Linked DNA regions of Homo sapiens. The protein of the gene in region 1 interacts with the protein of each later gene in a pairwise test. Each region holds a gene or a part of one and is shown on either strand. Other genes may lie near its edges.

Evidence for each region.
Region 2: the proteins of MGRN1 (region 1) and UBE2J2 interact in a two-hybrid assay, tested with the Homo sapiens proteins (one large-scale study listed by BioGRID).
Region 3: the proteins of MGRN1 (region 1) and UBE2Q2 interact in a two-hybrid assay, tested with the Homo sapiens proteins (one large-scale study listed by IntAct).

The regions. Positions count from the first base shown.
Region 1 is NC_000016.10:4,623,499-4,627,692, reverse strand, and holds the start of MGRN1 (E3 ubiquitin-protein ligase MGRN1), read right to left. Parts: upstream 2,868-4,194; 5' UTR 2,733-2,867; coding exon 2,645-2,732; intron 1-2,644. UniProt on the Homo sapiens protein: E3 ubiquitin-protein ligase. Mediates monoubiquitination at multiple sites of TSG101 in the presence of UBE2D1, but not of UBE2G1, nor UBE2H. Plays a role in the regulation of endosome-to-lysosome trafficking.
Region 2 is NC_000001.11:1,260,298-1,263,944, forward strand, and holds part of UBE2J2 (ubiquitin-conjugating enzyme E2 J2), read right to left. Parts: intron 3,090-3,647; coding exon 3,049-3,089; intron 2,094-3,048; exon of another isoform or gene 1,988-2,093; coding exon of another isoform or gene 1,972-1,987; intron 1-1,971. UniProt on the Homo sapiens protein: Catalyzes the covalent attachment of ubiquitin to other proteins. Seems to function in the selective degradation of misfolded membrane proteins from the endoplasmic reticulum (ERAD).
Region 3 is NC_000015.10:75,846,440-75,850,086, forward strand, and holds part of UBE2Q2 (ubiquitin-conjugating enzyme E2 Q2), read left to right. Parts: intron 1-3,647.

The DNA.
Region 1 (4,194 bases):
CTCAGCCTCCCGCGTAGCTGGGACTATAGACGCCTGCCATCACGCCCGGCTAAATTTTTTTGTATTTTTAGTAGAGACGGGGTTTCCCCGTGTTAGCCAGGATGGTCTCCATCTCCTGACCTTGTGATCCGCCCGCCTTGGCCTCCCAAAGTGATGGGATTATAGGCGTGAGCCACCGCGCCTGGCCAGACGACTGCACAATTCTATAATTTAACTAAAAATCATCAAATCATGTTTACAATGGATGAGTTGTGTGGTACATGAACTACATCTCAATAAAGCTATGAAGAGTAAAACAGATATAGTGAAAACAAAGCAAATATTAAATTCAAGCTGAGCGCTGCTGCAGAACATGCTGAAAGTTCCCTTAAGAAAAATGGACAGTGTTAGGTGTTAAAAATGCATATATTACCACCCAGTGACTCTTTCTCCTTGACATAATCAACAAAATTGACAGAGATGTGAAAAGAAAGCTTTCTCATCGGGTGATTGAATGGTCCATGGGGGCAACCCCTAAAATCATCTCAAATGTCTCCACGGTCCCCGGTCTGCCCTTGGGGAAACACACCAAAATGCTGCTGAGGCCCGGCCTGCCTCCCACCCTTGACCTGACGGAGTTCTCATTAAGGAGACAGGAGAGGCGGGGAGTCTAGGAAACCAGTGCGGCACAAAGGCAAGGACCAGAAGAGATGAACAAAGAGAAGAACAAGTATCTGCAAGGCCCCAGGGAAGGATGGAGAAGAGAAAGGGAAAAAGCACAGCTGGAGAGGACCTGTGGACTGGATGGGCGCAGAACACTGCTGGCACTGGCAACATGACCCAGGCAGCTAGCTGATGGGTTGCACCTGGGTGCCAGTGCCAACCAATAGTGGCTGACGCGAGTGTTCTGCGATGGATGCTCAGTGGGAGGGAGGGCCACGAGTGATTAGCAATGACATTTCAGCCACAGTGGGATCCCGAAGCGGGCTGTAAATGACATGTATGTTATTCTGTTCAGCCCAAGTGAAGAACGGACATCAAGTGAGCTCAGGTCCCAGGTGACAGGAAGTGCCACTCAACTTTTTGATATCTGTGTCATGCCACTGCTTACTATGATTATGGTCATTAGCTAGTCACTTATCTTCCTTTATGAGCAATTGTAGCAGCTACCATTTGGGGACTTCTGAGCCAGGTGTGGTTCTGAGGGCTGTATAAGCATCAGCCCGTTTTACAGATGAGGAAACTGGGACCCAGGGGGTTAAGCAACCTCGACCAAGGTCACTCAGCCAGAGGCAGGCTGGAAGAATATCAGAGATGAAAGAGGACAACAGCAAACTGCTCCATCTGATGTAGGGCCATCAGCCCTCGGAACCTCTAGGGAAACCCCAGGGTGGAACCACCCAAAGGCCAGGCTGACCCGCTGCTGGGCCTGGGATACAGCTGTGCTCTCCCCAGCAGGCAGGCAACAGTGCGTTCTGCCTAGCTCTGAGTCCATCCCCTTCAGAGTGCCCCCAAACTGTGCTGGTTCCCCTCACTTCATCCCAGTGGCCCCAGGCCCTCACCTAGTCACACCTTACAAAACCTGGGCAGAGCAGTTTTTCAAACCTGAGTGGACGTAAAACTCACATGGGGAATGGGTTGAAAATGCAGGTTCCCAGGCCCCAAGGGGTCCCAGGCAGGCCCTGGCATGTCTAGCAGTCCTCCCCCACTTGTGGACCTGGCCCACACTCAGAGAAATCTGGCCTGTGGGTGTCCGGAGACACCCAGGAGACTGAGACATCAGATCAGATGAGACGCCAGGATCTGAGGACCCAATCTAGATGTCCCCATGATGCCCAAGTTCTCTCTCCTCTTCCTTCTCTCCTTTCCACCACAAAGAACCCCACGAGGAGATGGAGGGTGAGACTTGGAGCTAGATGCTCCCAGTCAACACATAACTCATCAATAGAGGCAGAAAGAGAGCTGGGAACAAAGCTACGTGGGAGCCCCACAGCTGGTCCCGGTCCCAACTATGCTTCCATCCAGCTGAGATCTTGGCAGTCACTTCCTCCTTGGTGTCTTACGTCCCTCAGCCATAACACAGAGGCCCGAGTATCGGCTGGGTCCTCTCAGCAAGGACCCTGGCCCCTCCCGATCAACTATAATCGTCTCCTTGGGCCCAGCCCCACTCCTCCAACCCACACACCAAGAGCCTCCGTCCTGATGGGAGGGAAATTGCCCAAACCACTGGCTCGGCCTTCACACCAAGCCACTAAAGAAAGCGAAAGCCGGCCCCCGCGGTGAGGTCAATCTGATGACAATGAGAGTTTTCTAGGCAGAAGCGATGCGCCGGGACCCGCGCTCAGCACCCCGCCCCGCCCTCGGGGTTTCCCCCAGGAGCTCCCCCCTGTTGCAAGGACGGAGCTGAGGTGCCCGGGGCGAAGGGACTGCCCCAAGGTCACCCAAGCCGGGCAGTAGCAGCGCCAGGTACGGCTCGGGCAGGTTCCTCCGGGGCCCCCAGCCACGCCTAGGGATCGGGGCCGTGGGGCCGCGCGAAGGCTCGGGGTAGCAACGAGGCCCGGAGGGGGCCGAGCAGGGCGCCCCGCCCCGAGTCCCCGCCCCCGCGCCCGCCGGGTCCGCGTTCCAGCGCGTGCCTAGCAGTCCGCGCCTGGGGCCGGGCGCTCACCGGACTTCGGAGGGTAGCGATAGGCCGAGTTCGCCTGGATGTCGATGTCCTCCACCCCCGCGATGCGGCGGCTGAGAATGGAGCCCATGGTGCGCGGCGCTGCCGGGCAGAGGGGCCAGGGCCGGAACGGGAGCGGCGACAGCGGCGGGGTCCTCACGCGGACATGGCCCGGACCAGGCCGCACGGACGCTCGTCCACGGCCGCGGAGGCGCCTCGAGCCCCCACCCCCGGCTCGGCCCGGGGACCGACGCCACGGCGGCCCTCCGCCTCCCGGTCCCGGGGCACGTCGGGAAATGGAGTCCTCTCGCCGCCGAAGGCGCCGGGAAGCAGCGCGGGAAGCCCGTCTGGGAACTATCTTTCCCAGGATGCTCCGTTCCCAGGCCCTCTGACGGGTTGACAAGCACTCCGGGACAAACCAAATGGACCTAAATTCAGAGGGAAGGAACCAACCAACCACAGGGCAAATGGTCCTTCCCTCTGCGTTCCAAGCGCTGCACTAACATATTAACTCTTTGGTCATTTCCTCATCTGTTCGCTTACAGACTCTCCTGGAGCCCCAGCGCCTTCCACTTGCCCCCTCTGAAATAGCTCCCTGAGTCGCTGTGGTTCTCCCCACTCCCCTGAGTTTGTCTCCCGCCCCGACCGGCAGAGGGCGTAGCTGCACCTGCCACCCGGAGCCCACTTGCAGGGTGTGCACGGAAGAAGTGAAGCACCTGCTTTGGCCTTGGCCAGAATTTGAGGACTACCATTTGGGGACTTCTGAACCAGGTGTGGTTCTGAGAGCTGTATAGGCATCAGCCCGTTTTACAGATGAGGAAGCTGGGATCCAGGGGGTTAAGCAACCTCCGGCCCCCTGACAAGGCTGAGGCCCGGTGCAGTGGCTCACCTGTAATCCCGATACTTTGGCCCCACGTCTGGACCAATTAGTTTAAAGACATAATTTCACAGCCTCCACGGAAGGCAGTAGACTCTCCCACATTTTACACACAGGGAAACTGAGGCACAGAGGAGAGAGAGCCGCATGAAATGGCGCTGCGGGCAAGATTGCAAGAATCGCTTTCAGAATGAAAACCTCGCAGTGTGCAAGGTGTTCCCTGGCTTTTGAGTCACACACAGCTCTGCAAATAGATCGCTTTTTACCTACTTTTCAGTTGAGGAACTTGGATTCTGAGCAGAGTGATTTCCCAAGTCAAGCCTGCTGTACCAAGAAAGCAGCTAGGGAGGGCAAGGCAGACTGAGTCTCCAATGGTCAATTCACCACAGTCCATGTGGAAATGCTTCTTATACCCTTCCAGAGACCACAGTCCAGGATCCAGTCTTCCTCTTTTTTTTTAAATTGTTCTGTCGCGCAGTCTGGAGAGAAGTGGCACAATCTCAGCTCACTACAGCCTTTGCCTCCCGTGTTCAAGCGATTCTCGTGCCTCAGCCTCCCCAGTAGCTGGGATTACAGGCATGCACCATCACACCCAGCCAATTTTTGCATTTTTAGTAGAGACAGGGTTTCACCATGTTAGCCAGGCTGGTCTTGAACTCCCGTCCTCAAGTGATCC
Region 2 (3,647 bases), on another chromosome or scaffold:
AAAAGAGGAAGCGGGAACAGCCAAAGCGAGGCTGGAACGATGTTTAGCTCGGTGCTAATGGGCAAGAGTGACTTACACGGCAGGAAACAGCCAGTTGAGCGCAGAGGGTGCTGGGAGATGGACACCCTGCTGCCTCACTGCGTGCGCACACCTGTCGGGATGGGAGACGGGCGCCCTGCTGCCTCACTGCGCGCACACCTATCGGGAAGCCCCAGACGGCTATCCCACTGCTTGTCACCCGCCAGAGAAACCCAAGACAAAGGCACCAAGAGCCACACACACACAGACGTTCACAGCACCAGATGAAAATCAGGAAGCACCCACTTGTCCTGAAGTGGGTCCCTGGCAGCTTGAACATCCCCACACCCCAGGCCATCTGCTGAAAAGCCTGAGGCAAAGGCCTAGCTGGCTACTCTGCCCCATGGCCTGTCCCTCCTCTACCACTGCCTGACCCTCATCACTGGGGTAAGTCTTGAAACCACAGACTCCACTTCATTCTTTAGAAAAATGGTTTTAACTGTTCTAGGTCCTTTGCCTTTGCATGTAGCTTGTGTAGTATAAAAAACTGAGATTTTGTTAGGACTGTGTGAAATCTACAGATTCACTCAAGGGGAATGATTTAGCAACATTTGTAGGAAGCCAGCTCTGAACTGTCAGAGTGGGCACGCCTGGGCAGCACCAGGGGCAGAACAGCCACGGAACCCAGTGCACGGAGGGGACGCAGCTAATGCACAGGCAGGAAAAGGGGTCAGAAATCCCGAAGTCAGGAAGGAAGCTGTCGTCAGCAGCATCAGATACCAGAGGCTAAGAAACTGAGGACTGAGAACAGCCCCTCGGCAAGTGGCAATTCGGAGGGGTTCCCTGGAGACCCTGAAGGAGAGCAGAGGGCAGGGCTGCAGAGAGCAAAAGGCATCCCCCAGTGAGGGGGAGGTCCGCGGGGACGGGAGCAGCAGTGCCATAGAGGGAAATGGGAGGGGCAGTAGGAACACACATTCTCTCTCTGAAGGGAGGCTTTCCTGAGACCCAGGACCAGCACAGAGCCACACACGGTTGTGGGGAACAACGGAAGCGATGGGAGGGGACCAAGATAAAAGCACAAGTGACAGGGTTGGGGCTGGCAACGGCCGCACCACACCCAGGGGCTGCCCCCTCTTCTCCCAACTGTGTCCAGCCCTGTTGGGGGAGCAGCTCATCTCCACCAGCAACTGACCTAGCTGGTGAAGTTGAGGGAGACTGGGTGTGGATACAGAATTAATATTCACTATTTATTTTTAAAAAACTAAAACCACAAAACAAACAAAAAAAATGTAAAGCTGGCATAATTTTGCTTGTCAAAGACCACCACCCATTTTGGTTTTTTTTTTTTTTTTTGAGATGGAGTTTTGATCTTGTCACCCAGGGTGGAGTGCAGCGATCTCGGCTCACTGCAAGCTCCGCCTCCTGGGTTCAAGCGATTCTCCTGCCTCAGCCTCCTGAGTAGCTGGGACTACAGGGCCCCACCACCACGCCCAGCTAATTTTTTGTATTTTTTTAGTAGAGACAAGGTTTCACCGTATTAGCAAGGATGGTCTGGATCTCCTGACGAGTTTCACTCTTGTCACCCAGGCTGGAATACAACGGCACGACCTCGGCTCACTGCAACCTCCGCCTCCCGGGTTCAAGTGATTCTCCTGCCTCAGCCTCCCGAGTAGCTGGGATTATAGGCATGCACTACCACACCCGGCTAATTTTGTATTTTTAGTAGAGATGGGGTTTCTCCGTGTTGGTCAGGCTGGTCTCGAACTCCTGACCTCAGATGATCCGCCCACCTCAGCCTCCCAAAGTGCTGGAATTACAGGCGTGAGCCACCGCGCCCGGCCGACCACTACTCACTCGGTGGTATATATTCTTCAGATCAGCTGAAGGCACACACACGCATCGTAACAAGTACTTTAACACGCCCTGGACACCTGCTCCCGGGCCTTATCTCACCACGGCCTGCTGGCATCCCCAACGCTGGTCATGGGCAATGACACGATGATGGAGGGCCCACCCTACAGATGTACTCCCGCACTCTGGCTGCCCTAGTTGCAGATGATCCAGAACTGGGATTCCTGGGCCAAAGGAGAGTCCACAGGTGTGGCTGTGTTAACTCGGCCAAAATGCCTTCAGGAGAGCCTTTTTCATTCTTACCCACCCACAACCCTCCCGACAGTCCAAAGCAGGGGTTGCAAACCTTCTTCTAGCAGCAGCACTCTCTTCTAGTGAAATCTCATCCAAAGCCTCCACACACAGGCAAACAGAGCCTGCTGCTCCAGCCACCTGAAGCCGGGGCCCTGTGGCTGGACAGCAACTGCTGACCTGGCCCTGCTCTGCCTTGTGCTTGCCGGCGGGACAGTATTCACGGGCACACTGACTACTGACCTGGTCCAGATCGAGGCTGGCGCCAGCCTCCGCCAAAGGCCCCAGAAACTTACTGACAGCTCCAGCATCTTCTCTATAAATGACACTAGGTCTCTAGGTGGTGTCTGCTGACCTGGAGGGGTCAGGCTGCTGGATCAGCCTTGGTAGTCGATGAAGGGCTGAGGTGCTGGACAGGTCCTGCAGCCTACCGAAGCCCCAGGTGCCACCACACAGGGGTACTTCCACTTAGCTCAGAGACCGTCCTGGGGATTGCGAAACCCTGGGGGCGCCCAGCACAGAAGGCACACTGAATAACTGAATATATGTGCCTTTCCTTTGATGATATGCACTGGGTCTTAAGAAATAGTAGAACAGGCCAGCTTCAGTGTTTACCCCGGTCTGGTTTTCTCAGCTATGGCCCTATGGTGTCAGAGGCTGGTGAACACAGACGCTACAGGCGGCCCTGCAGGCTGAGACACATCAGCAGAGCAAACACTTCCAGCGTGTGGAGAAGCAGACGAGGAGGAGTTCCAACTAAGCCAATTTAACTAGCACACATCCAAAGTAGAAAGGCTGCTGTTTGCAAATAAAAGATGTTGAACAGGCAAGGCTGACTGAGAATATAAAAACCGCCTGGTGTTCTTCTCCTAAGCACAGAATCCTTACCTTCATAAGGGGTCATCTCTGGGCCTCGGACGACATAGTGCCTAAGGGAGAGAAGAAAATTACTTGGGATTTGAGGACAGCAAATTCTCCAAAATCTGAATCATTCCAAGCCTGGGGTTTATAGAACCCAGCCAAAATTACATTCACATTCAGGCAGTGAACAAATGAAGGTGAAATGTCACACAGCCACACGGCTTCAAAACCCCCGTCTCTTCTACCGTGGGTGCTTTTAGTCTCTTGTAACAGGATCTTAGAGACTATACTTTATAAGTTTACCATAAAGTACCTTTGTTTCGACAATATAACATGCACGAAGCTCATCTTAATAATAACTGAAATCTTAAATAAATTTTAATTTCACAGTACATTACTAAGATGTACTTGAAGACTGTAATCCCAGCACTTTGGGAGGGCACGGTGGAAGATCGCTTGAGCCCAGGAGCTTGACACCAGCCTAGGCAACATAGCAAGACCCCACCTTTATTTAAAAAAAAAAAGTTAGCCGGGTGTGGTAGTGCATGCCTGCAGCCCGCCTACTCAGGAGGCTGAGGCGGGAGGATCACTTGAGCCCAGGAGTTTAAGGCTGCAGTGAGCTATGA
Region 3 (3,647 bases), on another chromosome or scaffold:
GTTGGCCAGGCTGGTCTTGAACTCCACCTCAAGCTCCCAAAGTGCTGGGATTACAGGAGTGAGCCACCGTTCCTGGCCGTAAAGACTCTTTTAAACATGGATGACTGTTTTGATAAAATGACATGGCTTGTTCATGTCGATACCATTTGCTTAGAAGGGAAAGATCAAGGGAAAAATGGGGTTGGATTTCAAATGATTTGGTTTGATCGATGATTTGTTATTCTCTAAAGTTGTAACTCTGGAAAAGGTAATGAGTTTGACTTATTCTTTAACTTTTCCTCTTTAGACAGTTCAAATATTTGAATTCTACATGCTAGGACTTGTTTTCTTTATACTTACCAAGAAACATCCTTATGCAGTTTCTCTAATGTTTGAGAAACTAAGTTGTTTTTTACACACGTGCATGCTAGTTCCTGAAGAGTCCTGTACAGGTGCTCTGCTGGCTTTTCCTTTCAGGTTTCTGTATCAGCTGTATTTCTCCCTGTAGAATGTGCCCCTGACCTCCACCCCTTAACCTTACCCCATTTGTCTTTATATGCCTGACCATCCGTCAAGGCTCTTCTGGGTCATATTTAGTTCATGCTGTTATTTCCCCTTCCTCCCTTCTTTAGTCCTTACTATTTTTGCTTTGGTCATGTTTTCTTATGCTGTATTCTGTAAGCCTTTAAATTTTTCTTTTTATGGTGGCAGGGGAGAATATTTTATAATTATGCTTTGTGCTTTTTATCTTCCACTCAATAAATGCTTCATAAATATTTGAGTATATAGCGCTATTCTAGCTGTATTGTATTTGAACAAAAATCTTAACTGCCTTGTAAGTTAACTGCTAAGAATTTGTCAAAAGTGCAGAGATAACATCAATAACTTGTCATGGATAGTACAAAAAGGTCTCTAAGGGCTTGATGGAAGTCTGTAAATTGACTTCATATGAGAGTGTAAGAAGTGAAAAAGACCAAAACAGAGTAGATGTTTTACTCTGTAGGCCAAGGGAATTGAGCTAATTCTTTTCCTGTTTTATAAATTTGTCCTGATCTTAAATAATGAAGGGAAAAGAGTGCTCTTTTTCAACCTCGAGTCCTTTTTATTCTTTTCTGTGAAGCCATGATATGAAAGATTGCCTGTTATACAAACTTAAGTATAGTTTTTCCATCTTCAGTAAACTAACCTGATTGCCGTCTAATTAGTTGTTACAATCACACCGAAATGCAAAGCAGCTTGTTTTAAGCAGCCTTATTGGGAGCTAGTATATGGCTTTAGTCGTTTTGAAGTATTTAACATAACTTGGCAACTCCATTACTCCTTTTATGGACTTTTTGGCATCTGGGCATTCTTGGTAGGAAATCACTGTTTTAGAATGAAAAATCTCCCCCAGGAAGTAAATTAGCTAGTAAACAAATGAAACTTCATTTTTTATATTACTTGTAGAGCATAAATGATTACCCTTTCTGCGTATAAGTGGCTGTTTGCTAGGCTGCTTTTAGTGGGACTTTGTTTTTGATTGGTTAATTAAATTTCTATTCATTATTGCCAAAAAGTGCCTACCCCCAACAGCAAGATACTAAATTTTAAAAATGTTGGAGCTGTGAATCTAGGAGGAAGTGAGAAGTTTAGCTTTTATTTAGTAGTTAGGAGCTTAAGTAAGTCACTTCTTTTACTGTGTTTCTGTGTACTATAGATAATATTTTTTTGCACTGCAAGAGAGCATATAGAGGAAAGCTCTTTGGCAATGATATTATGTTCTACAAATATAAAAGCGATGGTGTCATTTGTGGCTGAATAACACTTTATTTTGAAAATGCTTTATAACAGGTTTTTGTGGGAAATAAAGCAATGCTGTTAACTTCATCTTGCATTTTTCTAGTCTTTACTATGATTAAAAAGTAGTCCAGTCAAAGTTGTACAAAGGAAATAAACCTGGACTAAGGAGCCTAAGACTTTTCTCTTTGGTTTGCCCTCCTGGGACAGATTACCTTTCCAAATTGAATTCATGGAAGAGCATTTGGAAATATCAGAACTGTCATGTTAAGCACCTAAGTGGTACTTTCATTCCAGAAGAATCATTGTTTTCGTTTATCTGACCAATTTATAATATAGGGTCAAATTCCTGGTGGTTATTTATGCTCCCTCATCCCCATTTTTATACCTGTCCTTGAAAGGAACAGATATATGAAGAGAAGACTTAGGTTTCCCTTTTGTGAATAGTATATCCCTTAGTATCTTGATTTTTTTTTTTTAATTTGGTTAAACATATTTAGACCTGGAAAAGGGTAGTATTTGATAAATGTCAGCTAGTTGAGGGGTGGGGAATTGAGTTGAATGGAGATAGTCACTGCCAAATGTCAAGCATGACTGGAGAGCCAGAGTGATAAAGCAGGGGTCCCTTTTTCCAGATCCTTTGTAACAGTGTTATGTGATCTCTTCTAGAAGATTCTGAAAGATAATCCCAACTTGGAACCTAGGAAACCACCCAGTGGGTTTCTGCAGCTTAGGTGGTTCAGATCCTCATCAGCACCTTTTTCTGTGCCTCAGTTTGCTTACAATGATGTTCTCAGTAGCTGTAATTTGCTGCTTGTGTTTGAATACTTAAGCATTTTCTTTTTATCATGGGTATATGAACATTTTTATTTCAACAAGTGTTAGAATTTTTACTCTGCTTTTGTGGGCTCTAGGTTAGCTACTTGGTTGTTTATTTGTAAAATGATTAGCAGGGAACCATGTGTATGCATTTTAAGTATCTTTTGTTGTCAGAGCAGTTAGAATTTTATTAAGGTACTATATGCTAATTCTGTCAATTTACTTCGTTCTCCACCCCACATTTATTGAACAGCAAACTATGAAAGTAATGTGTCCCATAACTGGCCTTCAGAAGAATTACAACTGCTGTTATCTCTGAACCTTCCAGAAGTTTGTGCATCAGTTTTAAAAAAATGATGAAATCCCTGAAGATAGCTGTGTCCTACATTTGGAAAGATACAAAAACTGACCATTCTGGTCAACCAGTTTTGGTTGCTGGTGCTTGAGATAGAGCCACACAATGGTCTCAGTGGATTTATGGAGAAAAATAGATACAGAAAGTTACTTCTAAATAAGACAAAAAAATCTTTTTCTTGAGCAGTGACAGGTAAAGAGGTTGGTTTGGTTAATCTTGAGTTGTGTTTCCCTCCATTAAGACAGTTTTATGGTGGGGATGGTAGTGGTGATGAACTTGTTTGAAATTTGTCCACTTACAGTAATGTTTATGGTAGCTTCACAGACAACTTCATTCTCACAGGCCTTAGAATTACTATAAAACTAATAGAATGGATGAGGAACAAAGGACCTGAGTAATTAGATGCTTAGATAATTGTTCTGTGTTTTCATAACTGTGGTGAAAAAGAGTGGTGCTAGAAGCACTTAAACATTCTATGTACGGGAAAACTGCCTGAATTTGTATTGGGATTTTTGAGCACCATTCACTGTTTAAAAACTGATATACCATAGGTCATATTTATTTTAAAGAGAAATAGTAGGCAAACTTATCTTTTCAAGATAGATATAAAGCTTAGTTAACCTTATCAAAATTACAAAACTTAAAGCATGTGAAAGATTGAAAATATTAATACATAGGTTTAAATATTGGTCATTATTTTAGATGTCTTTCAAAGTAG